Regions from separate parts of the Homo sapiens genome. Here regions 1, 2 and 3 are each linked to region 4. Evidence: fine-mapped expression QTL. A gene starts in region 4. Each other region holds a variant in brackets. All regions are shown on one strand. Distances are between the middles of the regions. Region 1 overlaps PLEKHA6 (pleckstrin homology domain containing A6). Region 2 has its middle 13 kb from the start of PPP1R15B. Region 3 has its middle 6.1 kb from the start of NUAK2. Region 4 holds the start of PLEKHA6 (pleckstrin homology domain containing A6).

What was found. PIP is the estimated chance that this variant, and not a neighbour inherited with it, causes the effect.
Region 1: its variant is fine-mapped to the expression of PLEKHA6 in lung (TOPMed, PIP above 0.99). The same link has a PIP of 0.9 or more in gastroesophageal junction and spleen.
Region 2: its variant is fine-mapped to the expression of PLEKHA6 in whole blood (TOPMed, PIP 0.96).
Region 3: its variant is fine-mapped to the expression of PLEKHA6 in cerebral cortex (GTEx, PIP 0.99).

The regions. Positions count from the first base shown.
Region 1 is chr1:204,288,271-204,296,188 of GRCh38, forward strand. All of the region lies in intron 1 of PLEKHA6 (pleckstrin homology domain containing A6), which reads right to left. Among named protein-coding and RNA genes, the nearest start is that of PLEKHA6, 68 kb to the right of the region's middle. RefSeq lists an enhancer at 7,058-7,918. The variant CTGTTAG/C (reference allele first, on the strand shown) is at 4,633.
Region 2 is chr1:204,395,092-204,402,934 of GRCh38, forward strand. It overlaps a transcript of PPP1R15B not described here. Among named protein-coding and RNA genes, the nearest start is that of PPP1R15B, 13 kb to the right of the region's middle. The variant T/G (reference allele first, on the strand shown) is at 5,656.
Region 3 is chr1:205,323,853-205,331,770 of GRCh38, forward strand. No RefSeq gene overlaps it. Among named protein-coding and RNA genes, the nearest start is that of NUAK2, 6.1 kb to the left of the region's middle. The variant G/A (reference allele first, on the strand shown) is at 3,691.
Region 4 is chr1:204,355,662-204,363,579 of GRCh38, forward strand. PLEKHA6 (pleckstrin homology domain containing A6) reads right to left here and starts at 4,268. Exons shown (of 23, transcript NM_014935.5): 1 at 4,033-4,268. RefSeq lists enhancers at 1,551-2,478, 2,479-3,405, 3,521-4,156, 7,144-7,697.

The DNA.
Region 1 (7,918 bases), 67 kb before region 4:
AGCCAGCCGGAGCTGGCTGATGGACAGCCCTGTCCCTTCTACTCTGCCCTGAGAAAGTAGCAACTCCCACCTTGATGCCATCCACCTGAGTAATGCTGCCGCCTCCCATGTGGAGAAGGAGAGCCCTCTAGTCCCACCCAGGCCGCCCCGCCTGATTGGAGCACACTTGCAACCTGAGGCGTTTGGCTCTGGCACGATGCCCAATTGGATGAGCCCACATTATGAAATATTTGCCTGGCGGGCCAATAGAGGAACTGGGATCTGGGGGAGGGATGATATTGTTATTTATTCCTGGAGGAAGGAGAGCAGACAAAGATAGTCACAGCATCCCTAGCCCTGGGATGGGAAGCAGTGGGAAGGTGGTCTTCAGATCCATGGAACTGCCTCTAACTGCTCTGTCCAGGTAGAGTGAACTAATTCTTGAAGCTTTCTAAGCAATTTGAGCCTGGCTGTTCAGCTAGAGGGTTTGTTTTTATTTTTATTTTTTTACCTTAATGTCTCTCTGCGCCACTCAGAAGTTTGGAGAGCAGCACTAGGAATTGTAATAGAGATTAAGAGGAGAAACACATTGTCAGTCAAGGAACTGCTTCATATCTGCATAAACTATGCAACCACAGTTATTGTTTATAGTTCAAAGTTGCAGAAATTATTTTAGTGTCTTTGGAGGATACAGACGGAAGGTGAGCAAGAACAAGAAGAGATAAATTCCCTCTTTATCCTTTAAAAATAGGCAACTGATTTGGGGGAAATCTAAAAGTATCTACAAGCAGGACACATGCAAATCTATGCAGATGTGTGCAAATGAGCAGCGCCGGGCTTGTGAGAGTAAGTCCTTGCCAGGATTTTCCTCATTTGAGGAAGAAATTAGGTAGTCTCTAAACCCCATATCAGAGCATCTCACTAGAGCATAAGGAACTCAATAAGCCTATATTTATTGAGCATTTACTCCATATGAAACAGAGTGCCTTTAAGTACAGCCCAGTAGGATTTTTCTTTTTTACCATGATCATAAATGGGATATACAGAGAATACAAGTTCCCTCTCCCTACACACCCACAATTAATAGCCCCTTCTCCTTTCAGGCCCCAGAGGAGTGATTTGGCTACTCCTCCTCTTGCCAGCCCGGATTTAGTAGCTGGCACCTCCTCCTTATCACCCCTGGTTCCTGTTTGCCTATCAGTAGCCCAGCCACTGTGGCTCAGGACCCTGCTTTAAACCTGCCAGGGGGCCTTATCTTATCTCCTGGGCTGCCTTCCTAGCAGCCCGCGGGGTGGCTGGCTGGCCGGGTTCCTTAAAGGGGCTGCACTGCATTCCCACTTGCTCCATTCACCCTCAAGAGTACCCCAGAGATCTGGAGGTGTTCTACTTGTGTAGGGTCAGAATTTACTATACCACCCTTCCTTCCCATCCTTTACAGTCACAGCTACTGTAGAGCTGCTACTGAAATGATCTATGACTTAGAACAGAAAGATGCTCATGCTTTTAGAGCCATTGTAAATGTTTATCATGTCATGCAAATGCCCTGCCCCTTGATATTTTCAGGTTCCTGCTCTTTTAAATTCAATTTTCAAAGCAAGGGAGGAGAGGCTCAGGATACAAAGTCTATATAGAAAAATCAGTTGTATTTCTATATACTGGCAACAAACAATGAAAAAAGGAAATTTTAAAACACCATTTATAATAGCATAAAATTAAGGGATACTTTTGACAAGGGATGTGCAAGACCTATACACTGAAAACTATAAAACATTGCTGAAAGAAGTGAAATAAAATCCAAATAAAAGGAGAAAAATACTGTTTTCATGGATCAGGAGACTCAATATTGTTAAATTGTCAACTCTCCCCATATTTTTCTATGGATACAACACAGTGCCAACCAAAACCCTAGCAGATCTTTGTAAAGTTGACAAGCTGATTCTAACATTCACATGGAAATTCAAAGGATCCAGAATACTCAAAAGCTTTGAAGAAGAATAGGTTTGGAGGATTTATACTACCTGACTTCAAGACTTATTATAAAGCTACAGTTATCAAGACAATGTAGTGTTGGCATAAAGACACATATATAGATAAATGGAACAGAGTAGAGAGTTCAGAAATAAATCCACACATTTTGGTCAATTGGTTTTTGACAAAGGTATAAAGTCAATGCAAAGGAGAATGACAGGCTTTTCAATACATGGTGCTGTAAAACACATGAAAACAAACAAACAAACAACCTTGACCCTATCATTAAAAAATTAACTCAAAACGGACCATAGACATAAATGAAAGAGCTAAAACTACAATGTTTCTAGAAGAAAACACAGGAGAAAATCTTAGTGACTTTGCATTTGGCAAAGATGTCTTTAAAATGACAAAAAACGCACCATCAAGAAAAATCAATAAATTGAAATTTGTCAGAATTTAAGTTTGCTCTTCAAAAGACACTATTACAGGCCAGGCGCAGTGGCTCATGCCTGTAATCCCAGCACTTTCGGGTGCCAAGGTGGGGAGATCACTTGAGGTCAGGAGTTCGAGACCAGCCTGGCCAACATGGTGAAATCCCGTCACTACTAACAATACAAAAATTAGCCAGGCATGGTGGCGTGCACCTGTAATCCCAGCTACTCAGGAGGCTGAGTCAGAGAATCACTTGAACCCAGGAGGGGGAGGTTGCAGTGAGCCAAGATTGCATCACTGCATAGCAGCGTGGGTGACAGAGTGAGACCCTGTCTCAAAAAAAAAAAAAAAAAGACATTGTTACGAAAATGAAAAAGTAAGCCATAAACAGAGAAAATATTTGCAAACTATATAACGCACATAGGACTTTTATCTAGAACCTATGAAGAACTCTCACAACTTAGTATTAAGATAGCAAACAACACCAAAGTTATACACATGTCAAATAAGGTACATGAAAAGAAAACATCATTAGCCATTAGAGAAATGCAAATTGAAACTACTATGAGCTATCTCTACCCACACCCACTAGAATAGCTAAAATTAAAAGACTAACCATACCAAGTGCTGGCAAAAATGTAGAGGAACTGGAATGCTCATATACTGCTGGTGAGAATATAAATGGTACATCCTGCTTTAGAAAACAGTTTCCCAGTTTCTTAAAGAGTTTAAACATCCATGCACCATACAACCCATTGACTTCACTCCTAGGCATTTACCCAAAAAAAAGGAAAGCATATGTCCACACAACGACTTGTAGACAGATGTTCACAGCAGCCTTATTTGTGACAGCCCCAAACTACAAACAACTCAAATGTCCATGAAAACCTGGGTACAACGTATGTGTTACATGCATACAACAGAGTACTACTCAGCAATAAAAAGAAATGAATTATTGAAATATGCAGCATAATGGATGAATCTTAAAATATTTATATGGAATAAAAGGAGCCAGGCTTTCTTGAAATAAAAGTATTCATTTATGATTCCATTATATAAAATTCTTAAAAATGCAAACTAATCTATAGTGACAGAAAGCAGACGGGTGGTTGCCTGGGGCCAGGGTGGAGGGAGGGATTACAAAGAGGCAGGAAGAAACTGGGGAGTGATGGATATATGTTAATTATCTCAATTGTGTTTATGGTTTCACAAAATGCACCTAATTTTACCCTTTAAATATATACAATTTATCATATACCTCAATAAATCTATAAAAAAGAAAAGCCTTCAATTGAGACATTAAAACAACGACTGCTATTATTGGGCACACCCATTCTGTTTCACATGGTGATGGAATGAGGGTGGGAATGGGTATGGTTTCCTACTGACCTGCTTTAGTCTGACAGAAATGCTGGTTACAGGCAGAGATGAACATGTGTCCTGAATCCGCCTTTACTCTTCTCATGGATTTAGATCAAATAATGTAGCAGACCTGAATACGGTCTTCATCAAAATAAAGGATTATTTGTTCTATGACAGAAGGGAAAATATCAAATAAAATCCTTTACGGTTCACAAAGCACTGTCATCATTATCTCATTTGGTTCTTTTATGGTCTTATGAGGTGGGCAGAAAAGTGTTAGTACCACCCTCATTTTACAAAACAAAATCCCTGAAGCTGGAAGTGTTGGCTGAGATAACCCACCTCATATACCTGAGGCAAGGCTAACCTCGGGGTCTGTTAACCTCAGTCCGAAGCTCTTTCCTCAGGGCCACAAGGAGCTGCCCCGACCTGGCTGATGCCCACCTATGTCCCTCACCCGGGCACTATGTCCCTCACCCTGGCTGATACCCACCTGTGTCCCTCACCCTGGCTGACGCCCACCTATGTCCCTCACCCTGGCTGATGCCCACCTGTGTCCCTCGCCCTGGCTGATGCCCCCCATTTCCCTCACCCTGGCTGACGCCTACCTGTGTCTCTTGCCCTGGCTTGGTCTTTGTGGTGCTCACCCAGCACTGGGTGGATGCTCCTGGAGCATGCCAGTGGCAGCACCTGAGAGGCTCCTGGGATGGATGGAAACAGGGTCAGGACAGGTCAACTAAGGGGAGCACTGCAAGACAGGGAAGACTGATAGAAATGAGGGATGCAAAGTCTAATTAGATCACACATTTGATGTGAAGAGGGGGAATAAAAAACAACCAAATGCCACTCCCAAGGCGGAAGTCTGGAGGTTGTGGAAGCAGCTGGAAG[CTGTTAG/C]TGTTAGAGAGCTCCCGGCCAGACACACGGCTGCGTTCCAGGCCTCTGTACCCCTCCCCTCCCGCCTCTTCTCTGTACCCTAACCTTCCTCCTCCTGGCATGGAGCCCCACCTCTCTCCCCCAACTTGTTCTGAGGGTGGGATGACTGGGAGAGGGAGCAAGCCCACACTGTGGGAGTGGGGGAGGGAGCACAAAGTTTAAGGGGCATCCAAAAACTCAGTAATCAGACTTTTTTTTTTTCTTTGAGATGGAGTCTTGCTCTGTCACCCAGGCTGCAGTGCAGTGGCGCGATCTTGGCTCATTGCAACCTCTGCCTCCCAAGTTCAAGCGATTATCCTGCCTCAGCCTCCCAAGTAGCTGGGACTACAGGCATGTGCCACCACACCCAGTTAATTTTTGTATTTTCAGTAGAGATACGGTTTCACCATGCTGGCCAGGCTGATCTCGAACTCCTGGCCTCAGGTGATCCGCCCGCCTTGGCCTCCCAAAGTGCTGGGATTACAAGCATGAGCCACTGCACCCGGCCAATCAAGACTTATTTTAACGCGATATTTTTGAAATAAAAATTAACATTAAAAACCCATGATGAATGAAATACCAACATTTCAAATAAAGACAGGACCAGTATCACTGGAATTTCCCTTTTGCCTCAGCCTCCAATTTGGCTTAAAGTGGCACTGTTTTAGATCCTGTCTTTATTTCGAATGTTACTATTTTGTTCTTCATGAAATGTTTGCATTGATTTTGATTTTAAAATTATTGCATTGAAATGTTATTTATCTTGACTACCGAGTTTTTTGGCACCCATTTGGCAAAATGTAAGACATTTTGTACCTAAGGGGAGTGTATTAATCGCCTTACTCTAGTCAGCCCTGCTCAGGGATGAGGAAAGACGGGACAAGGCTCAGGAAGTCCCAGAGAGGATCCTGTGCTCTTTAAGAAAACTTCAATGCATGAACATGGAGAAAGGCTGAGGGACTTTCCAGACTGAGAGGAAAGAGACATGATCCTGAATTGGATTCTAATGACATTATTAGGACAACTGGTGAAATTTCAATATGGACTGTATATTAGATAATAGAATTGTATCGATGTTATTAAGTTTCCTGAGTCTGTTAATTGTACTGTGGTTATGCAAGAGAATGTCCTTGTTTTTAAAAGGAAAAAGAGAAGATGAAGAAAGAGTGGCCAGAGCGTGACAGCTGCTTGACAGCTGCATTAAGCCAAACACCCTTCTCTCTCTCCAGCCTGTCTCTCCTCCAATTCCAGGCCATCCCAGGAGGATACGGAGGAAGTGGTGATGGCAGAAAATCTTGTCCAGAAGATAGGGTACTGGAGGGCTGGTTGGACATTTCTTCTTGAAATAAGAATTAACCTTGAATTCCCAAATTACCCTTCACCCTCCCAGGAAAACTTGACAACTAGCACAGAAAGAAAAAGGAAATTAACACCTATCCAAGTCATGATGCTAGCGAATTCTCTGCTTAACCCCCAGAGATAGGTATTGCTGTCCTGCTGTTGCGGAGGAAGAACCTGAGAGGTCAGGTTATTAGCCCAAGGCTACACAGTTAGGAAGTGAGAGAACTGGGATTAGAGCCCAGGACACAGCCCAAAGCCAGCTTTCTTCCCACTTTATGTTAGTTGTGCAACTTGAAATTCCCTTCTCATGCATCATCCTACCAGCTAATCCTTTCGTTTATTTTTATTGAGTTGAATCCGCATTAGCCTTGAGATTTTTGGCTCTGGAGTCAGACTGCCCCAGTTCCAATCCCGGCTCCACCAGTTACTACCTAAGGGACTCTGGGTGAGAAACTTAACCTCTCTGTGCTTTCATTCCCCCATCTGTGAAAACGGGATAATATACGGACCTTCTTCATGGGTTCGTCACAGGAGTAAATAAGATTATACCCACAAAAAATTTATGAAAGGTTCTGGCACTTAGTAAATGTTCAATAAATGCTAATAATCATTATTATCTGTCTGCATCTGCCTTGGGCTATTTATCCTTAGGAGACAGTGGCTCAATTTTGATTATAAAACCCCTCACCACTTTGACACCTACAGATGGATGCTTAATAATTTGTTCCTAAAGAAGTTATCCATCAAGATAGTACCCTCTCCCCTGTACTTAGGAGCCAGAACAATTAACACCTGAGAATCTCAAATGTGAGGGAGGTCTGTTCCTAGTGTAATTTGAACTGGGAGGTGGGCTTTTGTGTGTGTGTCATGGTTGAAAGCAGTCCATTCTAAGGGTCAACATTACTGGACAGAAATAATTGACTAAGAAGACCCAGTTCTAGGCCAGGCGCATTGGCTCATGCCCATAATCCCAGCACTTTGGGAGGCCAAGGTGGGTGGATTTCCTGAGGTCTGGAGTTCAAGTACAGCCTGGCCAACATAATGAAACCCTGTTTCTACTAAAAATACAAAAAGTAACCAGGTGTGGTGGCACACGCCTGTAGTCCCAGCTACTCGGGAGGCTGAGGCAAGAGGATCGCTTGAATCCGGGAGGCGGAGGTTGCAGTGAGCTGAGGTCATGCTATTGCACTCTAGCCTGGGTGACAGAGGGAGATGCCATCTCAAAAAAAAAAAAACAAACAACAAAAAAAAAATTCTAGTGCTTATGCTGCTATCCAGCTGCATAAGGTGTGTAGCAAGTCCTTGTTCTCTTGGGGCCCACTAGACCTGAGAAAGGGAATCTCATTGCCCCTAGAGCAAATTATAGGACAAAAGAGCTGCTCATCCTGAGCACCTTCGGTTCTTCAGGGAAGCGCTCCTTCCAAAGGCTGCCTGCTCATCTGAAACCCTCACCCCATTTTAGAGGCTTAGATTCAGCTGGGGAGGACCCACAGCCCGAGAAGGAAAACAAACCAACAGATTATGCTTCTAGGTGGCCACAGCAGGCCAAGCCAAGGGCAGGGTGGCCAAAGGTCAAGCAGCAGTCAGACTGAGCCAACACGAGCCTCCTGTGACAAAGCCAGAGCCAGAGCAGGGCAATTTTCTAACTATAAACGGAAACTCAAGAAGCTCCAAACCGCACAAACACACGTGGGAAGATGAGGGTAAGGCACAGAAGCTACGGGGTGCACGCACACAGAGGAAGGGGCTTCATGACGTGCAGGCAGGGGACCAAGGAAGGGCATATGTGTCAGTGTCGTGGATGCAGCAACAGATCTGGGTTTCTGGGGTCCTGGAGCTTATACAATTTGTGGTGGGAGGGGCGTGGTCCTCATTAAGGAAAAGACTATAGGTACAAATTTGTGTGTTAGATATGGCCTTG
Region 2 (7,843 bases), 39 kb after region 4:
TGAATATCCATGTGCAAAAATATGAAGCTTAACCCTTGCCCTCATAACACATACAAAGGTTAACTCAGAGTGAATGACAAGACTTAAATGTCAGAGCTAAAACTACAAAACTTCTAGAAGTAAACATAAACAAAAATATTCATGACTTTGTTAGGGAAAAACTTCTAAGACCTTTGGAAAAGCATGGACCATAGAAGAAAAAATTGATAAACTGAACTTCTGCAAAATTAAAAAAATTCTGCTCCCCAAATTACATAATTTAAAAAATAAAAAGGCAAGCCACAGACTGGGAGAAATATTTGCAAAATATAAAGGACTTATATCTAGAATATGTTTTTAAAGACACACACACATACACAAATCCATATAAATACTAACAATTTGGCTTAAAAAAAAGGACAAAAGATTTGAACAGACACTTGACTGAAGAAGGTATTTATCAATGCAAATAAACATGTGGAAAGATGCTCCATATCATTAAACACCAAGGAAATGCAAATTTACACCAAAATAAGATGCCACTAGAATAGCTAAACTTAAAAAGACTTACAATATCAAGTGTTGGCAAGGATGTGGAGCAACTGGAGCTCATACGCTGCTGCCAAGTAGTATAGCCACTTTGGAAAACTGTTTGGGAGTTTCTTATATAATTAGATATATACTTACCATATGATCCAGCAGTCTCACTCCTGGATTTATCAAAAAGCAATGAAATCATATGTCCACTCAAACGCTTGTACTCAACAGTTCATAGAAGCTTTATTCATAATAGACACAAATTTATATGTGCTTATATATGTATATGTTTATATGTTTATATATGTAGTCATGTTTATATAACTACACATATTTATCAAAACTCATTGAATTCATACTTAAACAAGCCAACTGTTTATTATCTAGTAAATGAACAAATAGTGGTATAATTATACAATGAAATACTACTCAGCCATGAAAAGGAATGGACTACTGATACACTCAACAGAAGGAATGGACTGCAGAGACACTCAACAGCACAGATGAATCTCAAAAGCATTACAGTAAAGAAGCCCACCACAGAAGGGTCCATGCTGTACATCCGATACCATTTTTCTGAAATTCTAGAAGAGCTAAAAGTGTTGAAAGCAGATCAAAGGCCAGACGTGGTGGCTCACACCTGCAATCCCAGCATGTTGGGAGGCCAAAACAGGCAGATCTCTTGAGCCCAGAAGTTCAAGACTAGCCTGGGCAACATGCCAAAACCTTATCTCTACTAAAAATACAAAAAAAAAAAAAAAAGCAAAAACAAAAACAAAAAAAAAAAAACAAAAAACCAGCTGGGTGTGGTCGCACACAGCTGTAGTCCCAGCTACTCAGGAGGCTGAGGTGGGAGGATCACCTGAACCCAGGGAGATAAGGCTGCAGTGAGCCGTGATCACACCACTACACTCCAGCCTGGGTGACAGTAAGACCCTGTCTGTCAAAAAAAAAAAAAAAGACAAAGAAAAGAAAAGCAATGGCTGCCAAAAGCTGGAGGTTGGGAAGGGGACCGAATACAAAAGAACATAAGGGAACTTTCTGGGTGATGGAAATGATCCATATTTTGATAGTGGTGGTGTTTATATGACTACACGTGTTTATCAAAACTCATTGAATTCATACTTAAAATGAGTGAAACTTATTGTAAATTATACTTTAATAAGTTAATAAAAAACAAGAAGTGGGTTGGGGAGACGTTGCTCAAAGGATACAAACTTTCAGTGAGGAGGAATAAGTTCAAGAGATCTACTGTACGACATGGTGACCATAGTCAATAACAATGTATTATATTCTTGCAAATTGGCCAGGTGAGGTGGCTCACACCTGTAATCTCAACACTTTGGGAGGCAGGAGGAACACTTAAGCCTAGGACTTCAAGACCAGCCTGGGCAATATAGGGAGATCTCGCCCCTACAGATAACTTAAAAATTAGCCTGTTGTGGTGGTGTGAGCCTGTGGTCCCAGCTACTCGGGAAACTGAGGCAAGAGGATTGCCTGAGCCCAGGAGGTTGAGGCTGAAGAAAGCCATGATCATGCCACTGCACTCCAGCTTGGCAACAGAGCAAGGTTCTGTCTCAAAATAAATAAATACATAAATAAATAATAAAATAAAATAAAATAAATAAATAAAAAGCCCAGGCGTGATGGCTCACGCCTGTAATCCCAGCACTTTGGAAGGCCAAGGCAGGCAGATCACCTGAGCTCAGGAGTACGAGACCACCCTGGGCAACATGGGGTGAAACCTGTCTCTACTAAAATACAAAAAATTAGCCGGGTGTGGTGGCACGCGCCTGTAGTCCCAGCTACTTGGGAGGCTGAGACATGAGAATTGCTTGAGCCCAGGACGCGGAGGTTACAGTGAGGCGAAATTGCACCACTGCACTCCAGCTTGTCTCAAATAAATAAATAAATAGAAAAAGGAAATTGCTAAGAGTAGATTTTAAGGGTTCTTACCACAAAAAAAATGCTAAGTATGTGAGGTAATACATGTTAATTAGCTTGACTTACCATTCCACAATGTACACATATTTCAAAACATCATGTTGTAGACAGTAAACATATACAATTTTTGTCAATTTAAAAAACAGAAAAGTTTAAAAAACAATGTCCTCAACCATCTTAGAAAACTGGATATGAATGGTATCCTGCATAATGAAGTGCCTTTCATAACGATGACAATGTTTCAGCGAACCTTAGGCTACCACTGGAAAGAGTAGTCATGACGACCTTACATCAACTGATTTAAAACTTTGGGTTTCAGGTCATCACTAATAATGCTAGCTTTTCAAAAAAAAAAAAATCAAATACTACAAATACAAAATAATGTAAACATTGAAGATAGACCTTTTCACATACAAAATTGCTTCTTTGAAATGAATTCATAAATTACTTGTTATGTCGGGAGGGAGCCTGTGTGTTGGAAAAAAGAGGCTATGGAAATTACCACTTGAGTTAAAGAAAAGTGTATCATGTGTCTAAAATACTCTGGTCACTGCGCAGACCCTTCCACCACAGAGGAAGAAAGGAAAGAGCAAATCACAATTAAAATTCAATGTGACTTGAACAGTGATAAAAAAGTATACAAGGGCCAAGTGAGGTGGCTCATGCCTGTAATCGCGACACTTTGGGAGCCCCAGGCAGTAGGATCTCTTGAAGCCAGGAGTTTGAGACCAGCCTAGGCAATATAATTAGACCCCATCTCTACACACAAAAATAATAAAATTAGCCAGGCAATGTGGTGCATGCCTGTGGTCCTAGCTACTTGGGAGGCTGAGGTGGGAGGATTGTTTAAGCCCAAAAGTTGGAGGCTGCAGTGAGCTATGACCGTGCCACTGTACTCCAGCCTAGGCCTGGGCGACAGCAAGACTCAAAAAAAAAATCAGTTCCTTTGTTTGTGTTCAAATACAAATCTTGGTTCTCCTATAAGAAAGAGCCCCTACTTCTGGGTAATTACCACAAAAAGGTGGAGTCACACTGGGCCAGGCAGGCCTGGAATGGGCAGGGCAGGGCAGTTTTCCAGCTTGTTTACACATTGAGGGACCCACCTCCAGGGGAGCAATAGCAACCAGATCTGTAATAACAGGTGTCCATCAGGCACTCCCAGATGGAAGATAACGCCATCTGGTGGAGACAACAGAGCATCACTAGAAACCCAAAGCCAATCTTCTGCCAAAGAGCTAAAACCCCTGGTGTGGTGGCAAGAATACTCTGGTACTCCAATGCAGCCTATTAATTCTGGGAAAGGAGGGTCTCAGTTGATTTGCTCGCATATTAAATTCATAAATTAACAATGTGTCTTATATTAATAATGACACTAGAATTAATGGATGTGGTATACCTAGCCAAATTGAAATTTGTAATTACTTTCTACAAATTTAGTTAAAGCTTACGGTAGCTTTTCTCTAAGGACATTTAAATTCTGTGATTCTACATCATCTGATGATTGTGGCACACTTGTTTCTGGTCAGACAAGGCTGTGTGGATGAAACTTCAATAAAGCTGATAAGAGAGGTGACTTTGGGAAAGCTATTAACTTGGCCAGGCCCAGTGGCTCACACATGTAATCCCAGCACTTTGGGAGGCCAAGGCAGGAGGACTGCTTGAGGCCAGGAGTTGCTATATGGGCAACATAGCCAGACCCCATCTCTATTTATATATATTAAAAAAAAGAGTCCAGGCGTGGTGGCTCACGCCTATAATCCCAGCATTTTGGGAGGCCAAGGCAGGCAGCTCATGAGCCCAAGAGTTCGAGACCAGCCTGGGCAACATGGTGAAACCCCATCTCTACAAAAAAATTAAAGTTAGCTGGGTGTGATGGCATCTGCCTGTAGTCCCAGCTACTTAGGAGGCTAAGGCAGGAGAATCGCTGGAGCCTGGGAGGCGGAGGTTCAGCACCAAGATTGCACCATTGCACTCCAGTCTGGGTGATGGGAGTGGAACCCTGTCTCAAAAAAAAAAAAAAAAGTTGTTATTCAACAAATATTTATTGACTATAGCATACCAGACACAGTTCTAGGCTCTGGACTCATAAACGACAAGATCCCTGTTCTCATGGAGTTTACAGACTAGTGAGGGTGGTGGTAGATGAGAAACAAGTAAAAATGTTAACAAGATGAGGGCAGAGTGAACATAATTTTAAAAGGTACTGTGAGAGAAAAAGGAGGGGTTGGGGGATAGAGTGATCAGAGGGCTCTTTGAGGTGATTATTTGAGATCCAAAGAGGAACTAGTCTTTCATGATAAAATGCGGTCTTAAAAACACCCACTTCAGAACATATATCCAGATAAGTCTTTTTCAAAACCCCTGGGACTCCTCTGGTTTTTGCCTTCAGAGCCCATTAAGAAAAGGAGGTATGGCTGGACCTGACGACTCATGCCTGTAATCCCAGCACTTTGGGAGGCCAAGGTGGGCTACTTGCTTGAGTTCAGTAGTTTGAGACCAGCCCGGGCAACATAGTGAGACCCTGTCTCTACAAAAAATAGGTGAGCAAAGTGGTGCACACCTATGGTCCCAGCTACTCGAGAGGCTGAGATAGGAGGATTGCCTAAGCCTGGGAAGTCGAGGCTGCAGTGAGCTGTGATCATGCCACTGTACTTCAGAGCCTGGGTGACAGTGAGACACTGTCTCAAAAAAAAAAAAAAAAGAAAAGAAGGCTTAACTCAAAGCAGCATTTACTATCACCTCTTTCTTTGACCCTGAATATCCTTGGAATGTTTCTGAAAGTTAATCCATCTTTTTTATTTTCAACATTTTTGAGACAGGGTCTCACTTTGTCGTGCAGGCTGCAGTGCAGTGATTCAATCACAGCTCCCAACTCAGCCTCCCAAGTAGGTGGGACTACAGGCATGCACTACCTTGCCCAGCTAATTTCTTTTTCTTTTTTTTTTTTTGTATTTTTTGTAGAGATGGTTTTGCCATGTTGCCCACACTGGTCTTGAACTCCTGGGCTCAAGAGATCCTCCCACCTTGGCCTCCCAAAGTGCTGGGATTACAGGCATGAGCCACCACCCCTGGCCAATCCAATCTTAAGTATAAATATTTACCCAACATTTTAGTGGGAAAATGTGCAGTGAGCTCTGTAGAAAAGTCAAGAACCGTGTGAGGTCCTTTCTTCTCGCATCTCTGGCAATTGTGCTC[T/G]TCTTTTGCTATTAAGTTCTTCATCCTTCTTCTTGGTAGGGATCTATAAAACAGTAGTGAAAATAAAATATTCAGCAAATAAAGGCAGGAGGAAACATAAAGGATATTACTGAGATAAAGGGGGAAGTATAAAAGATTACAAGAACAAAACCTGAAAAATTGTTCCAAAGCTGCTTCCCTTGTTGTACAGCTTTCCAGGCCTTGCGGCTCTCAGGCTCATTAGATCTCTAGGGTATCCTCCCCATGGGTCAAGCAACCTACTTTCCACAAACCTAGTTTCCCCTGTCTCTCTCTGATAAGATTAAGGCGTCTGCCAGTGGTGAAACACTGATGTAACTCAAATTGCTTACATGGTAATACATAACTCCTACTCTCAACTGCCTTCTCCGTTCCATGTGTAGAATGAGTTAGTTCTCTTTAAATTCCCTGATGTCAAACCTGTCACTGAAACATATTGGTTGAAAGCATCATAGGTCCTGCTTGATGAATCCTCAAAGTCAGCAGGGTTAGAAGAGATTTACGTATCCTCTTTATGATACCGATTATTATAGATCTCAATAGCATGCTGCCAACACAGACTTAAGTCTCGCTGGAGCACATCCAGGAAGGAAAAGATTGGTGTTTTGTGTTGATCACAAAACATTCAACTAAGTTCATAAGGAAAGATTCCAAATAGCTAACCTGTGTATCATTAAATAACTCTCAAAACCTCTTTTTACAGATAAAAGGAAATTAAGTCTCTCAGCTCAGAAAGGTACCCTGGGAAGCATTATTTTTTAATGTACCAAAAATGTCTTTGTACATCTCTGTATTAGATGCTTTTATAAACAACGTGCATTATGAGAAAAAAATGAAAATTTCCCATTTTTATTTTAAAAAGGTACAGAGAATAGAGTCCAAATGAAGTCTCCAAATGACAATATGCCAGAGAACACCAAATTCCCAAATCTGAGTAACTATCTAAATTTCTGAGGTCTCAGCCTGGACAACATGGCAAAACCCCATCTCTACAAAAAACAGAAAAATTAGCTGAGTGCGGTGGTGTGCACCTGGAGTCCCAGCTACTCAGAAGGCTGAGGTGGGAGAATCGCTTGAGCCTGGGAGGTTGAGGCTGTTGAGGCTACAGTGAGCCAAGATCGCACCAATGCACTGCAGCCTGGAGGACAGAGCAAGACCATCTCAAAAAAACAAGAAATTCTGAGGTCAGCAATTAAATATTTGCTTTTAACTTTCTACTAAAGTACAAAAGAAAAATAACACAATTTCTATGAAATATCAGGATAAGCATAGCAATAAATCTGGCTTAATGTAAATGTAGCCATTTTCACATATATTACTGGGGAATGGCAGACATGCTTCAATTAACCCCAAGATAGAAATAAAATTATAACCCGGGGATGTCAACTCAGTTTGTACTAAATATTGTTTAACTGCAACTAAATGTTAGTTTCTTTCCTTCCAGTTCAGAAATATATCTTAATAACTTTTCTTCATTATCCTTTCATCTTGAAAGTGCCTGAATTAAGAGTGCTATTATTCTTTCATCCATTAATAGGGTTGCCATAACCCAAATGCTTTCTTTTTCGGAGTAAAAATTTTTTTCTGATAACATTTATTCTTTTGAGACAGTCTCAATGATCCATATATCTAGTATTAAAGCATGATTCCATCTGACTTTATTTTTTGAGACAGAGTCTATCACCCAGGCTGGAGTACAATGGTGGAATCACAGCTCACTGCAGGCTTGAACTTCTGTGCTCAAGCAACCCTCCTGTCTCAGCCTCCCCAGTAACTGGGTCTATAGGCTAGGACCACAGGTGTGCGCCACCATGGGCCAGTTTTTTTGTTTTTTTTTGTAGAGGAAAGTGTCTCACTATGTTGCTCAGGCTGGTCTTGAACTCCAGGCCTCAAGCAATCCTCCCACCTCAGCCTCCCGAAGTGCTGGAATTACAGGCGTGAGCCACCATACCTGGCCCACTTTTGTAAATGAGAGATCATCATGATTTTACAATACCATGATTATCGTGATTAGTAACACACAAAATAGCCAGACACGGTGGCTCACGCCTGTAATCCCAGCACTTTGGGAGGCCGAGGCAGGAGGGTCACGAGGTCAGGAGATCGAGAACAACCTGGCCAACATGATGAAACCCCATCTCTACTAAAAATACAAAATTTAGCCGGGCAT
Region 3 (7,918 bases), 970 kb after region 4:
ATGGATAACATAAGAGCAAGCACAGGGCCGAGTGTTGGGGGACCTGAGTTCGAGTCCTGACTCTGACACTAACCAGTTCTGTGGCCTTCTACTAATTACTTCATTCTACAAATACTGGTGCCCACTAGGTGCTGAGCCTGGGGACACAATCATGACAAGATTCCTGCCTTTGGAATGTTCTCAGTCTAGTGAGAAATAAACAAGTAAATCCTGTACAGAGGGAGAAGGGTCCATGATGGAAGAAGAACAGATTGCCTTTTCTTTTTTTTTGAGACGGAGTTTTGCTTTCGTTGCCCAGGCTGGAGTGCTGTGGTGTGATCTCGGCTCACCACAGCCTCCGCCTCCCGGGTTCAAGCGATTCTTCTGCCTCAGCCTCCTGAGTAGCTGGGATTACAGGCATGCGCCACCACACCCGGCTAATTTTGTATTTTTAGTAGAGACAGAGTTTCTCCATGTTGGTCAGGCTGGTCTTGAACTCCTGACCTCAGGTGATCTGCCCGCCTTGGCCTCTCAAAGTGTTGGGATTACAGGTGTAAACCACTGCGCCCGGCTCAGATTTTCTTTAAGATATGTATCCCAGGTGGGAGGAGGCTGGTCAGGCGCAGGTTCCTAAAGCCAGGACTTTTTAAGTTGAGACCTGAAGGACAAGTGGCAATTGGCCAGCTGAATCAACATTTCTTCATAAGATGAAAGAATTATACAGATGAGCTTAACGCTTCTTTTAAGGCTTAATCTAGCTACACTCCTGTAATTTTTTCCAGGTATCCCCAACACCCAGTGTGCTGCGAGGCACCTAAAAGTCGCTCCATAGATGCTTATGAACTGAAGGAATGGATGTGCGATGGAATCCAAAGATGAAACTAAAAGCACCTACATGTGATTGGGCCCACTCCATTACCAGCTATCTGGCCATGGTCGGGAGGGAATCATCTGCAACTTCTTGGACCTTCTCACCCCTGCTCCAGCTTCCTTTGACTACAATCTGAATTCCCATCTAGGTGAGGAGCCATGGGTGACCAAAGATCACAGCAGGTAGGCAAGGAAGACACAGAGCCAGAACAGCATGTGACTCGGAAATGATCTAAGCTGCTGAAACTCATATCTCAAATTCCTTAAAGGAGGTCTAGTTGGTGGGAAAGCGAGAGTGCCTGACAGGGAATCCGTGTTGGTCGGGGACTCTGCCACCAGCAGTCTTGGGGAATTCCTGGGTCATGTGGTCGGATGTGTGGATGTGCTGAGATATCTGGGCTGAGCTAAGCTACTCTCAATCCTGCCTGCCCCACTATTGACTCCTGGAAGGGAGACGCCTACCCCCCAGCCCCAAGTCCCATGGCTGATCCATGTCTGAGGGGGTCATGGGGGAAAGCTGTTTATTGGATCTACTATGTGCTGTGCTGGGAAAACAAGTGGGAACAAATGTCTGTCCTTGTCCTTACACACTTCACAATTTGTGTGTGTGTCTGTAGGGGAGTGGAGGTGGGTCCAGACTGGTAAAAGGGGATTTGAAAGCAGCTCAGTGTGTGGACTGCTGTGATGTGTCCTGGTGGGAGCAGGGTGCAGGTAGGAGCAGAGGTGAGAGGCACCAAGGCCATGCCATGGGGGTCACGTGAGGGTTGGGAGCAGGTAAGGCAGATCTCAGATACCTCTAAGATGAGTCTTGAGCCCTGAGGATGAATTACAGCCTGTAGTATTCCCTACCTCCCCTCCAAGAAAGGGATGCAAATCCTGTTAGTCGCTGGCAAATTGGGAAGCCTAGCTCAAAGCTGCCCTCTTCTGACCAAACTAAGCCTAGCATGTTTTATGGGATGCCCAAAGCTGTGACCACAAGCAGAAGTCGGCTTAGGCAATTTGTTCCTCCAGTAAACCGTTCATTTGTTCATTCATTCATTCATTCAACAAATATGGACTGAGTAATTGCAATAACAGCTATAATGATATCTAACATTTATTAAGCCAGCCCTGGTTCTAAATTCTAAATTCTAGTATGTCTTGCCGGAAGTTTGGAGAATTTGTGCCGCAAACACTGAAAACAGCCCTCAAACTCTCAATTACCCTGAGAAACCGAATGTTATTCACAGACCAGGCCTGGGAGGGGATGTGACTGAAGGAGAAGCTAGCTCTTCTCCCCAAGCCAAAGAGCTTGCCCTGTCTCCATCCTGGAATGGGAGGGAGAGCACACGCAGAGAGACAGGACGCAGGCGTGCCGGGGTCCAGCTCCACTTCCACCACCAACCCACACCATGCCATGGCCAAGGACTTTCTCTTTTAGGGGTGGTTCCTTATCTGTAAAAGGAGATTTGGATAAACCAACTCTCAGTTTTGTTTCAAATCTGCTTTAACTTCTCTGCAATATCTAAGCAGGGACAAATTAGAAACCTCAAGGGCTGGGCGCGATGGCTCACGCCTGTAATCTCAGCACTTTGGGAGGCCGAGGCAGGCGGATCATGAGGTCAGGAGATCGAGACCATCCTGGCTAACATGGTGAAACTCCGTCTCTACTAAAAATACAAAAAATTAGCCGGGCGTGGTGGTGGGCACCTGTAGTCCCAGTTAGTCAGGAGGCTGAGGCAGGAGAATGGCGTGAACCCGGGAGGCGGAGCTTGCAGTGAGCAGAGATCGCACCACTGCACTCCAGCCTGGGCAACAGAGCAAGACTCCGTCCCCCCCACCCAAAAAAATTAGAAATCTCAGCCACTCGCTTTCTTTTGCCACCTGGTAACTGATTCCTTCAGTACTGGACATTCAGGAGCCCCATTCCGTCTCGCATCCCCAGGCTGGCATAATGTTTTTGGCTCAAGAGTCTGGCAACCTGGGCTTCAGGCTCTGCTCTGTCACTAACTGACTGTGACTATAACTCATGTCTCCACCACTTCATGTATAAATAAGAATTATTCTTTTATGCAGCTAACATACTGTGTGTCAGCCACTGTTCCTTAGATTTCCTGTATTCATGAATTCAATCCTTTCTACAACTCTATGAAGTACATACTAGCCTATGATATCCCCATTGCGTGTGAGAAAAGTGACACAGAGCAATTAAGGGCCTATGCAGGGTCACAGAGTTGTCAAGTGGTGAAGCCAGATTGCCTGGGGTCCAATCTGGCTCCAGAAACAGCACTCTTAGCCCTCATACTTTGGCTTAGAGAGGATTCCTGACTTGCCTAGAGTGTCAAGTAGACTAAGCTGCTCTGCGTCATACTTTCCTCATCTGAAATGACTACCTCCTGGGCTTGCTGTGGGATGAAATTAGAAGTGAGGTCGTCAGACTGATGGTTTCCTATCCGTCTGCCTGGCGCTTTGCTGGGCTCTGGTCCTCCCAAGTCCCCTCCCTCAATTTCGGCAGAGACCCAAGAGTGTGTGCGCGCACCTAGTGTGTGTGTGACAGCGAGGGGTTATCAGAGTTCCCTGAGCTCCAGCTGACCTGATTTGGGACAGAAGACAGTTAAGATAAGCTCAGAGCTAGGAAGTGGTCATTGAAACAGCCCAAGGCTGGACCTCTGTGTTAAGGGAGGGAGGAAGGAGCTGATCTGAGAGAGAAAAGAAAGGACCTCTTAACAACTCTTAGTGCTAGATTCGAACACCCGAAGGAAGTTGTTCTGAGAGTTGGGAGGTGGAGGGGTGGATATATGTGTAGATTTGCAGTCTAGAGGGACTGGGCGCAGTGGCTCACGCCTGTAATCCCAGCACTTT[G/A]GGAGGCCGAGCTGGGCGGATCACCTGAGGTCAGGAGTTCGAGACCAGCCTGGCCAACATGGTGAAACCCTGTCTCTACTAAAAAAACAAAAATTAGCCAGGCACCTGTAATCCCAGCTACTTGGGAGGCTGAGGCAGGAGAATCACTTGAAACTGGGAGGCGGAGGTTGCAGTGAGCCGAGACCCTGCCATTGCACTCCAGCCTGGGCAACAAGAGTGAAACTCCGTCTCAGTAAATAAATAAATAAATAAATAAAGTTTAGAACTTCCAGTCAGTGTTTTAGAAAGGGTCTCCTTACCCCATTGTTAGTAGCGAAACCAGAGATTTTTCTCTTTTTCTGCCCTTCACTCCTGTGTCCTTTTCCCAGTCACGGAGGATCTGTCACTTCCATTGCTGTGGAGTTGGGAAGTGTGGGTGCTAGGGAGTGGAGAAGCTATGCCGGCGACTGGGGAAAATTTTCATGGGATTCCTCCATGGGTCTTCAAGTACTTTCTACTAACTCACTCTATTACGTTGTAGTCACCTGAGACCCTTTTTGAGTAAAGGATGAGTAAAGAAAAATAACCCCCCATCTTTACAGGTGTCCACCCTTTCACACTCACTATTTTATTGATTCTCCACTGACCCTGTGAAGTCGGGGCTTCTGGTTAGATGTTGGGGTACAGGGGCTGTTGATATAGATGTGGCAGGAGGTATAATGAGCCTGGGAATGGAAGTCAGGAGATGAGGTGCTACACCCAACTCTGCTGCTTGCTGGCCACATGACCTGGGACAGGTGACTCGATCTCCCAGCCCTCAGTTCCTAATTATTCAAAGAAGACCCCAAACTTGGAGATACTTTGTAAGCTGTTAAAGGCTCCCCAGCAGGTGGGGGTTTATGGCAGTGGATACTAGGCCACTTCACACTCCATTTAAATGCTGCTCCCTATGAAGGGGCTGAGGGTCTTCCTCCTGGCCCTGCCTCCACTTGGAATGACCAGGCAGGGCAGGGCATGGGAAGTGTGCCCAGGAGGGAGGTGGGAGAAAGGTCTGCCCATTGCCACCCCCCTTCCCCGTGCCTGGCTCCCAATGGCAACCTGAGCCCTTGGCCTCCCAAGCCAATCCTGGAATGTAAACCCCAAGCAAAGCACATTCTTTAGCCGGGTCACCAGCTCCTGGCCCTTGGCAAGGAAAGGCAGGAGCCAGCATTTCTCTTGGCCCCAAATAACGGTAGCACAATCTGGTACTGAGGGGCTATTACTACAAGGCTGGGTTAATCAGCTGGTTCTCACCCACAGCTCATAAAAAGCTCAGGTCTGACCTAGCACCCCTGTGAGCGCCCACAGTCAAGGGGAGAGGGAACTCAATCCCTAAGCAGAGGGAGTTGAAATATTGCTTATTTCCTGGATCTGGTTCCTTGTGTCAGTTGCAGGCCATAGAGGAACTCAGAGGGAAAGGGAGCACCCTAAAGATTCCCTCAACGCTGGTGCTGCCTCTGGACTCTTTGATTTCTAGCTTTTATTCAACAGTTGTGTGCTACATATTTAGATATCGCATGCCAGGCACTCTGTGTGATGCCCTGGGCCTATAAGAGTTAATAATATCATTACAGTCCTGAGAAGTACCTTAAAAGTTTTGTGTGCATGGGGATGAGGTGGGGTGAGGAGACAGTGGATTCGCCAGGTACACCATTGAGGGGGCATTCCGGGCAGAGGGGACAGGCTGCTTAGGATAGGGAGTCAAGGAGCAGCTGGACGCATTCAGGGAGTACTGGGCAGAGGTAAGAAGAGGAGGTGGGAAGGGTGGGACTTCATGAAGATCCTTAGAGGGAGGCTGCTTACGCTTCACAAGGATATGGTCGGATACGTAGACAAGAAGAACAGAGGGAGTCTAGCAGCCATGTGGAGGGTGTCTGGTGGGGAGCCTGAAGGTAGGGGAAGTGAAGTTGGGAGGCTACTGAAACTGTCCTCTCAAGGGACGGTGACGGTCTGGACTAAGCTAGTGGCTGTGTGAGGGAGAGAAGAGTGAAGATAAGGAGGTCACCTGCCACCCAGGGTTGAGCTGGCTGCCCCGAGGCACCGGGAGCGAAGGTCTGGGGTGGAGTAAGATGAATTTGGAAGGGAAGCTCCAGTCCAGTCTCCTTCTACAGATGGAACAGGGGAGCCTGGGAAAGGGATTTGTAAATTACTGTTCCCTTACAAATGTTTGGTGTTGAGACTATGAATTGCTAGGCTGTGATTAGGACCAAGGCCCATTTTCTGTTGAATGGCAGGCAGAGTGCCCCGAGGTCCTGTGTCGTCCTTCAGGTAAGGAGGGCAGGGTGGGCCACCGTGAGATGGTGCATGGGGCCATGGAAGTTCCCAGCCCTGCTTGCACAGCCATGTGCTCCCTTCCAAGGCTAAGCAGGGGAGGAGCCCCGACAGCCCAGTGAGAAGCCAAGCAGAGCAGAAGGCCAGCAGCTGGCACCCTGGAGCTCCTTCCTGTCCCACTGTCCATGCTGCAGGTACGCTGAAGGGAGGAGGATAGATTTCTCCCCAACCACCTGGAAACCCATCAACTCTGAAATGTCACTTCAGGCACCAAGTGTTCAGATGAGTCTCTGGCCTCCAGCTCTCATCCCATGGACCCTCCTAGTCATCTGTTTCCTTTTTGGAGGGGGGCAGTGGCTGAGGGATCATGCATGAAAAAAAGAAACTGTCTCAAGAGCCAGGAGAGTCCAGTCTGGCTAAATTAGGAACTGGGACTTCCCCTCACTAGGATCTTTCCCAGTTCTTCCCCTCAGAGAGCCATCCAGTCATTTACTCGACACAGGTTTATCAAGTGCTGGTTCTGTGCCAGGCACAGGAGGTGCTAAGCATGTGAGGGTAAGTGAGGAAGACCGGGTTCCCTGCTTCATGGAGCTCAGGAGCTCTTGTGGAAGTCACAGGACTTCTTGAGTCTCCATTTCCTCACCTGTAAAACACCTCACCATCTTTAGAAGGGTGCAGAAGATTCCCCTAGCCATGATGGCAAACTGCAGCTTGGGGTTCCAGAGGGAAGGGTGAGGCCTGGGTAACGTTGCAGCCACTCACCCCCAAATTAAAGGACTCCGAGCCTGGATGCCTGCTCAGAATGTGAGTCTGGGAATGTGAGTGTGTGAGTGTAAGAGCAAAAATATGTGCATGAACATGTGTGTAGAAGCGCATATGGGTGTGTGTGTGAACGTGTAAGAGTGTAAGGTGTGTTATTTGAGGCGTACAAATGAGGATAAGTGTGTAAGGCATGTGTGGATTTGAGGGGTAAGAGTACAAGGAGAGTGTGAAGCATGAATGTGAGGTGTGCGTGTGAGCATGAATCATCCTGTGAATGTAAATATGTGAGTGTTTCCATAAGGTGAGTGTGTAAGAGTGGGCGGTTTGTGGTATAAGCATGTGTGAGTGTATTTGTGGGATGTGTGAGAGCGTGTGTGTGAGCATGAGTGAATGTGCAAGCATGAGAGTAAGAAAGAAGGGGGAGAGTGTGGAGAGAGAGAGAGTGTGTGTGTGTGTGTGTGTGTGTGTGTGTGTGTGTGTGTGTGTGTTGGGGCAGGCAGGTCCAGGGTGTGCTGGCTGGAGTTGCGGGAAGCTCATCTGGTATGAAATAGCAGCTGCACAGGATCTGCAAAGAGCTCACTCTTGGAAAGAAGTTCACTTTGCCCTCTGTGCGGCGATGGTGGGTTCTTGGTGCTCTGCTTTGTGGAGGGGACAGGCTGTTCAGGACAGGGAGTCGAGGAGCAGCTGGACGTATTCAGGGAGCACTGGGCAGAGGTAAGAAGGGGAGGTGGGAAGGGTGGGACTTCACGAAGATCCTTAGAGGGAGGCTGCTTACGCTCCACAAGGATATGGTCGGATCTGTAGACAGGGCCTCTGGGGGTTCTTTGAGCCAAGTACCTGCCTGGGGAGCTCAAAATGAATGGAGTATTTGGGAAACAGCCCATAATTAAACCATTAAAATAAAAAGGATCATACCATGGGGGAGCACGCAAACTCTAAAGACATTTTGCAGCTAACTGGCCCTTCCCCTTCCCCCAGGGATTGTCTCTCCCTCCTCTGTCACCACTTGCCCTGTGGGTAGAGAGGGGTGAGGTCTGAGAGGAACAGCCAGAACAGCTCCATCACACTTAGGCTGACCTGCCCCAAACCCTTCCTCCTGAGGCATTAACCCTCCAACTCAAGGTTTGCACAGACTCCAACGTGCCTTCTGAAGTCTCTTCACACCACTCCCCCAAAG
Region 4 (7,918 bases):
ACTTCTGGCTTCAAGTAATCCACCCGCTTCGGCCTCCCAAAGTGCTGGGATTACAGGCATGAGCCACTATTCCTGGCCAACTGTGATCTTAATGACTCTGCACACACTGCCTTTTAAGAAAAGCCAAAGACTCGAACACACAAATATGTTTATTACATGGACATATTATATATTGCATTGTTATTAATATGGACAATGTCACATTTGATAAGTCTCTTTTTAAAAATTGTCTCACTCCCAGTCAAACAGATGGATCGAAGCAATAAATGAAAACCATGAAAAAGTTGTAATACTCAATGTTGATGCTCATGGCACACACACACACACACACACACACACAAAAAAAATCCATTCTCAGACACAGCTGCGAGGAATGTAAATTAGTGCTTTTGAACGAGGTATTTGGCAAAATATTTTAATAATGTAGCCATTTCACTTCTAGAAATGCAACCTAAGGGAAAAAAGTATTGATATGTGTGAAGATTCAGATATTTATATGTTCATTGTAGCCTTGTTTATAAAAGTAGAAAATTGGAAATACCTAGTTTAACATAGGGGCCAAATCAACAAATAAATTGAAAAGGTATATAATGAAATATGAGACAGCCACTTTAAAATGATGCTGTAAAGGCCAGGTGTGGTGGTTCACGCCTGTAATCCCAGCACTTTGGGAGGCCGACGTGGGTGGATCACTTGAGCACAGGAGTTCAAGACCAGCCTGGCCAACGTGGCCAACTCTATCAAAAATACATAAAATTAGCCAGGTATGGTGACATGCACCTGTAGACCCAGCCACTTGGGAGGCTGAGGTAGGAGGATCGCTTGAGCCTAGGAGGTTGAGACTGCAGTGAGCAGAGATTGTACCACAGCACTCCAGCCTGGACAACAGAACAAGGCCCTGTCTCAAATAATAATAATAATATTAATAATAATAATAATGCTGTTAAAGAATATTTAATAATATGAAAAAATGCTTTCTGTTTAAGTGACAATAATACACATCTGGGCCAAAATTTTAATGATATATATGTATTGTGATAATCTAGACATACACTCATGCATGAATTCATAAAAGTACAAGTATACCAAAATTAAAATTATATATCAAACCTATGGGTAATTCTTAACTTTGCTTTAGGTTTTTCTACATTTTTAAATGACAATGTATTACTTTTACACTCACAGAATAGTAATTCTTTTAATGTACACCCTTCATCACATTAATTCTATGCCTTGGAATTTATCCTAAGTCACCCAAAACACAGAAAGAGCCTTATGAACAAAAATGTTCCTCTTGTGCTATCTGTAAAAGGAAAATAAGGTAACAACCTAAATGTCCAATATAGAAATGATCATGTAAAATATATTACATCCACACACGGACTATTATATACTATTTTAATCAAAAGAAAACTATTTTTATGACCACGTAAAAGAGAGAGGTGACTTGTTCTGCACAGCTTCAAAGAATCAGAACCAGAGGGTGGAACTTAGAAGTCGGCAGATTTTGATTCAACATAGAAGAATGTTCCAGCCACAGAGGAAGCTGCCTTGTGAGGTAATGAGCTCCCTGTCACTGAAATTATCCAAGTGAGGCTGCTGCTTCTGTCAGGGAGGCTGAGGAAGGCTCATCTGGATGTGGAGGGAGTCTGGACTAGATAGTCTCTGAGGGGCGTCTGAAGGTTGTAGGTGCTGAGCAGGAGCCCCCTGAACAGACAGATGGTCAAGGGAAGGCTTCCACTCAGCCTACCCTCAACTTCTTTTCCTTCTGCTCCCAGTTACTCTAAATGTCTCCCAAAATATAGTCTTTTTTTCCTCTCTGAATGTGCTTTAAGTGTTTGGAGACTGGCCTGCTCAAGTCCCCTCATTAAGCCCTGGCTTCCTGAGCCCGTTCGCCTCACCCCAGAGCTCAGGGGAGTGCGAATCCTGCAGCTCTTTTGTGAGGCACAGCTCCAACCTTCCTCTGGGGGGCCCCATGGGTGCGCCAAGACCAGTGCCAATGACCTCATCAAATTCACAACAGGCAGTGAGGAAGACGATGAGGAAATTGGCTCGGAGAACGGAACCGCAGCCTGTTCAGCACCAGTTGACACCACGCTCCCATCTGCTGTTGCGGCTTCTTCACTCTGGCCTAGGCCAGTCCCCTGGGCCAAGAGAGCTCGCTCTATGAGCCCGAGGCTGCAGGCTGGGTCTGGGCGAGGTGGGGGCTCTGATGTCAGCCCGGGAGCCAAGGTGGCTGCCTCCCTCACTGACTGAGGGATCAGTAATTATTTCATTTACAAGCAGAAATAATCCAACTCAATAATCCAGGCAGACACATTCAAAGTAATTATCTGTGTAAGGCGTCCTGCACCATCACCTTCCTAGGAAGGAGGAAAAGAAGCCTAGCCCAGCAAAAAAAAAGCAGGTGGGGACCCCCATTGTCTGCAGCCTGTGTGCAGCAGCCTGCCAGGATTAATTACACACCAGTGCTAACACATTTATCACCTCGCCGCTGATTGGAAAACCAATGACTTTTAATAATTCATATCTGTGGCTCGGCACTCTGTGCCCTTGTGCAAAGACACAGAAACTCGCTTGTTTCCATAAGGAAAGCCCAGTGGCAGTGCCAGGAGGGGTGCCTTCAGCCCCTCCTGCCACCCCAACCTGGAGACAGGCCAGAGCCTAGCCGCTCCCACCTCCCCTCCACCAGCAGGGTCTGCTCATGTCCTGCTGAAGCTAAAATGCAGCTGCTCGGGGGTGAAAGCTGGCGACTGAACCGTCCTAGCCACAGGAGCCCTCCTCAGTTTCATACTCTTCCAGGGTGGCCTGGAAAACAGGATTTGGGAGATTTGTAGGGCAAGTGCCCGCAGTGCCCCCGCACCTGCCCAGACAGTGGGCTCAGGCAGATACCTGCCAGCCAGGACCCTGCCCCACCATGCAGGAGACCCTCAGCAGAGTGCACCACTCAAGTGATCAGATTGAGGGTAAAGGGTCTACAGGGCTTTGGGAAGAGCCTCCAATCCCTGAAGGCTGCAACCTCCTCTGACACCAGCTCTGAGCTCCAGCCTCCTCCCCACCACCTTCCACCCTCCTGCAGCTCTCCCTCCCCACCCCTGTGCCCCGGGGATGGCTCTCCCTCTATCCCGGTTCTCCATCTCTGCTCTCCCAGGCTCCACAGCCCCCTTCCCTGCCCTGGCTGGCCTGTTGTCTCAAAGAGCATTTCCCAGGAGCCTCTTCTCCCTTCTTCTCCCTTCTCCCCCACCCCCGCCACTTTCCTGTCTCGCCCCGCTTCCCTCCCCTTCCACTGTAGCCCTCCTTACCCTTCTCTGGCCAGTCCCCCAACTGTCCTCCTTTCCTCAGACTCCTCACACAATACCTCGAGGCTCTTAGCTGGCTGCAGCCTGGTCCCATCATTATAAATGCCATCCCCTCATTCCCTGCCCTCCTCTACCACATACCAGGCTCCAGCTCCTTCAAGAGCTCCCCACTAAATCTGAGACCCCCAGAGCTCAGATGCGTCCTAGGAATTGGAATCCAAGAGCCTCTGTCACCCTTCGACCCAACCTCTGACTCATAAGAATGATACACACCCTGACCCCTCCCCACGCTGAGGAAGGTGAGTCCCTGGGGCTGACCTGAGCCTGACCCTGGACCCCCTCCCTCTCTCCTTCCTGCTGGCAAGATTAAAGGGAGGGTGGGCTGGCCTCTCTGTGCTAGCTTGCGTGGGGGACCCCTGCTGGACCCTAGGAAGCTGCCAGCCCCAACGCTGCCTTCATCCAGGAGATGCAATTCAAATGTAATCAATTTAAACAGCATCAGCCCTGACAGGGGACTCTGGAGGTGGGGGTGGGGGCACAGGGAGGGCTATAATTAGCATTCTCAGCATCCATGATCCCCAAGTAAGGCTGCCAAGGATGAGAGATGGGGAAGCCAGTGCTCCGCAGTGCAAGCAGCCCAGGCTCACGCGGCAGACAGGCAGCTGCCAGCCCTGACCAGAGCCCAGCCTTCCTCCTCCCACCTCATCTATGTGATGCATGAAAACAGACTCACCGGCTTCTGAGGTGTGATCCCCGCGCTGGAAAGCTCTAACTCTGCGAGCCCCAAGGCACCCCTCCCCCCAGCTCAGGCCAGCTGGGGTCCTCCTCCCCCGCCCCTGGGGCCCCCTTCTGCAGAGCGGGGCTCCGGATCTAATCTGATCTAATCAGTCATCTCTCCGGCTGGCAGGTCCCTGGCGCAGGGAGAGGATGCTGTTGTGGTTACTGCAGGATCCAGCATCTTTCCCAGGCAGAGGCAGCTGGGCATGCTCCATCGGCTCCCCCGGGGATTTCAGGGCCACGTGACTCTCCCTCCCCAAGCTGTCACTTAGGATCAGGAGTAAATAGTCCCCGAAAAGGTTTAACTCCATCCACACCAGCGACAAGCTGCTAACCATCCACGCAGCCTGCCTGCCCGGGAGAGGATGGGGTGGCTCAGCACAGCCTCCTGGGCCTTCCACCACCAGGAGAAGGCTGCCCCCCAAAGGGGAGCAGGGCCACCGTCTGGGTAAGCTGCATTTTTAGAGTCCCCCACAAGAGACTGCAGGGAGCCAGAAACTGCCCAGGGTCTTAGAATCATGTGTGGGGCCTCACCCAGCCAGCCTGGTGATCACCTTTCACCTCTGTGGCTGTCTACTCCAGAGAGGGGCACGTCTCTAGGTGTCAAGAGGGCTTGGCTGGGGCCCTGGGGCCTCCCCATCCCCCGCCCCCCCCCCAATATGGTGAATTTAGAGAAATAACATTTGGAGAGGGTTGGGGGCCACTATGAGATGCCAGGATGAGTGGGGTGTGAGTGGGTTGTGGAGCCACTGCCCCCACACCAACCAGCCAGGCTCCTCCCAGGCCCTGGGAGGGAAGTCTGTGCTCCTGTTCCTTCCGTTGCACATTCCTTTACAGATAAGGGCTTCAGTTGGTAAAAATGATATAGGTACTCAGATCACACTAAGACAGACCCACTTGTATTGGAGTCGAGAGGCTTAATTTTTTAATCAAGTTGTTCTAATAATAAACAAAAAATGCAATTATCAGGTGAGTGGGGCCTTGCAGAAACCCTTTCTCTAGCTCCTGCCCAAATCGGTCTTGATAACCCTGAGCAAGGATGCTAGCCAAGCTACGGGGTACCTGGGTTCTGTATTATTCAGGATCAGAGGCAGAAGGAAGGACTTCAGACAATAGGGTCGTAGCTCTGTTTCTGCTTAGACAAAGATTGCTTTCTGCCTCAGTTTCCCTTTATCCACATCTCTCTCAGTTTTCCTCTATCCACGGATTCTCTGTGACAATGGGCAAGTGTAATAAAAACACTGATTTCATAAACAGGATCAGAAAGATGGAAAAAACCAAAAGATTCCCACCTCAACCTCCAGGCAGGCTCGCTGGTCTCAGTCCCATCTGCCCCTTAAACCTGGAAACTGGGGACTGAACCAGATGAGCTTCTGGAGTCACTTCTGAATAGAGAAATATGTCAAGAAGCAGGAGCTAGAGAAAGGGTGTCTGCAAGGCCCCACTCACCTGGTGATTGCATTTTTTGTTTATTATTAGAACAACTTGATCAAAAAATTAAGCCTCTTGACTCCAATACAAGTGGGTCTCTCTTAGTGTGATCTGAGTACATATATCATTTTTACCAACTGAAGCCCTTATCTGTAAAGGAATGTGCAACGGAAGGAACAGGAGCACAGACTTCCCTCCCAGGGCCTGGGAGGAACCTGGCTGGTTGGTGTGAAGGCTGTGGCTCCACACCCCACTCACACACACCACAGCATTGGAGGAAGACAGGGACCTAGAGAGCTACTGAAGGGACTGTCTTTCCCACCCCAGGGCAGGCCAGGCTGGAGCCAGGAATCTGGGGTTAGGGCAGCAGGCGCAGCTCAGCAGCACTCTTGGGGAGGGGGACTCTTGGTCACCTCCCACTGTTCCCCTGCCCAGCTGAGATGTCAGGCCAGCCCTGCATTGGCTATAGGAAAGCTGCTCTGCTGAAGGGGCAGACAAGTTGTGGATGAGGGCCCAGTGCCAGGCAGGACCGATCAAGCCCAACTCACCTGCCCTGGCTCTCCAGGACTTGGCAAGGCTGCCAGGTGCAGGCAGGGGGAGAGTCTGCTTTCAGTCAGCCAAGATGAGGGGCTCTTGGGGGTCTCTGACCCTGCGGAGCCAGTGGAGGAAAGGAGTGGAGGCAAGAGATTACAGCATCCCAGAGGGAGGCCGGGGAGGGGGACAGAGACCCCAGCCCAAGCCCCCACAATCCTCAGGCAGCTGGAAAAGGCAGGCGACCAACAGATGGGCCTGCTGGGCGGGTTTCCTCTCTGGCAGGCAGAGGGCAAGGGCCGCAGACGAGTCCCACGGATCCTTCGAGAAGCCTGAGCCAGACATGTGAATGTTTCTGGGGGATCTGAGTAGCTTCAGGGGCATGAGAAGCCAAAGGGAGGGTCGGTGTGGGGTGCATGCCTTTAGCTGGGGGACCAAGGCGGAAGAGATGTGGTAGCATGAAGATCTTAGAGCTACAGCAAGGACAGGTGAGGCGGATGGACCAGAGATAATAAATTCCCTTTGCCAAATCTAAGTTCTTGCTCTGCGAGCCCAGAAGAGGAGAAGCAAGCCTCACCTAAACAACTCCAATGGGGAAGGCGTGAGGTGGCGTGAGGGAGGGAGGATTCCACAGAAAGCACCTCTGCGATCCCGTCTCTCCTCTGCTCTACAATCACTGGTCCCCATTGCTCAGAGGATCAAGTCCAAGCTTCCCAGGCACCTACTCATGGTCTCCAAACACACGGGTCCTCCCCACCTTTCTGGTGCCATCCCCACTCCCTACCATACAGTCTTGGTGGCCACTAACTTGACTGGCTCACTGCCCATTCAGTGGAACTGCATCCACATGGGTCTCTCTTCCTCGCAGAACATGCCAACTAGGGGCAGCAAAGGGAGCTCCGTGGGATGAACTAGCTCACTGCAGCCTCCACCTCTACCTGGGCTTTAGCAATCCTCCCTCCTCAGCCTCCCAAGTAGCTGGTACTGCAGGTACACACCACCACATGCAGCTAATTTTTTAGTTTGTTTTACAGACAGAGTCTTGCTATGTTGCCCAGATTGGTCTCCATCTCCCAGGCTCAAGCAATCCTCCTGCCTCAGCCTACTGAGTTGCTGGGACTTACAGGTGTGAGCCACCATGCCTGGCTAACGATAACCTGTGTGACTTGGAAGCCCAGCTCCATCCCTGAGTAACTCACTGACTGAACAAATTACTTGACTATCCAGCCTGTTTTCCTCACCTGCAAATGGGCTTCTTTGAAGCCCAGCACATTCACTACCTTTTCTCCTCGGCCGCCTCCTTCTTTACTGTTCTGGGGTGTTATCTGCCTTTCTAAGCCTAGAGCTAGTGGGGTCACTGTACCAGAACTGCTGCCCCAGCACTCCTGTGCTCTGTCCTGTCTGCCTTCTGGAGACAACAGAACTGCTTTTGGTGGCTCCCCCGCCCCTCCCAGGGCCCCTCCTCCGGGGTCTCGCAGTTCGGGTTGGGGTCTGTACTGATGAATCCCAGAGACCCAGCACAGCCTTGGAGGCTCACCGGGGTCTCACTGCCCAGCCTGGAAGCACGCGGGGCAGAGACCTGGGCTTCTGATCTCTGCCTCCCTGCAACCCCTCAAGAAGCGCTGAGCAGCCCGTAGGCGCGCCAGGGCCGTGGGTGGACTGCCTGCCTGCACATTCTCGCACCTTCCTGGAGGAAGCTTCCAGAACAGAACAAGGAAGACCAACGGCTGGGTGGGGTTCCCTCGGTGGAGGAGCCGCAGGGGCCCAGCTTGGGAACCGGGTTATCAGGGGTGTGGCTCTGCAGAAAGCGTCCTGCCACGTCTCCCTCCCTGTCAACCTTGGGGAAGGAGAGAGGCACCCTTGGGGACAGAACTGGCCAG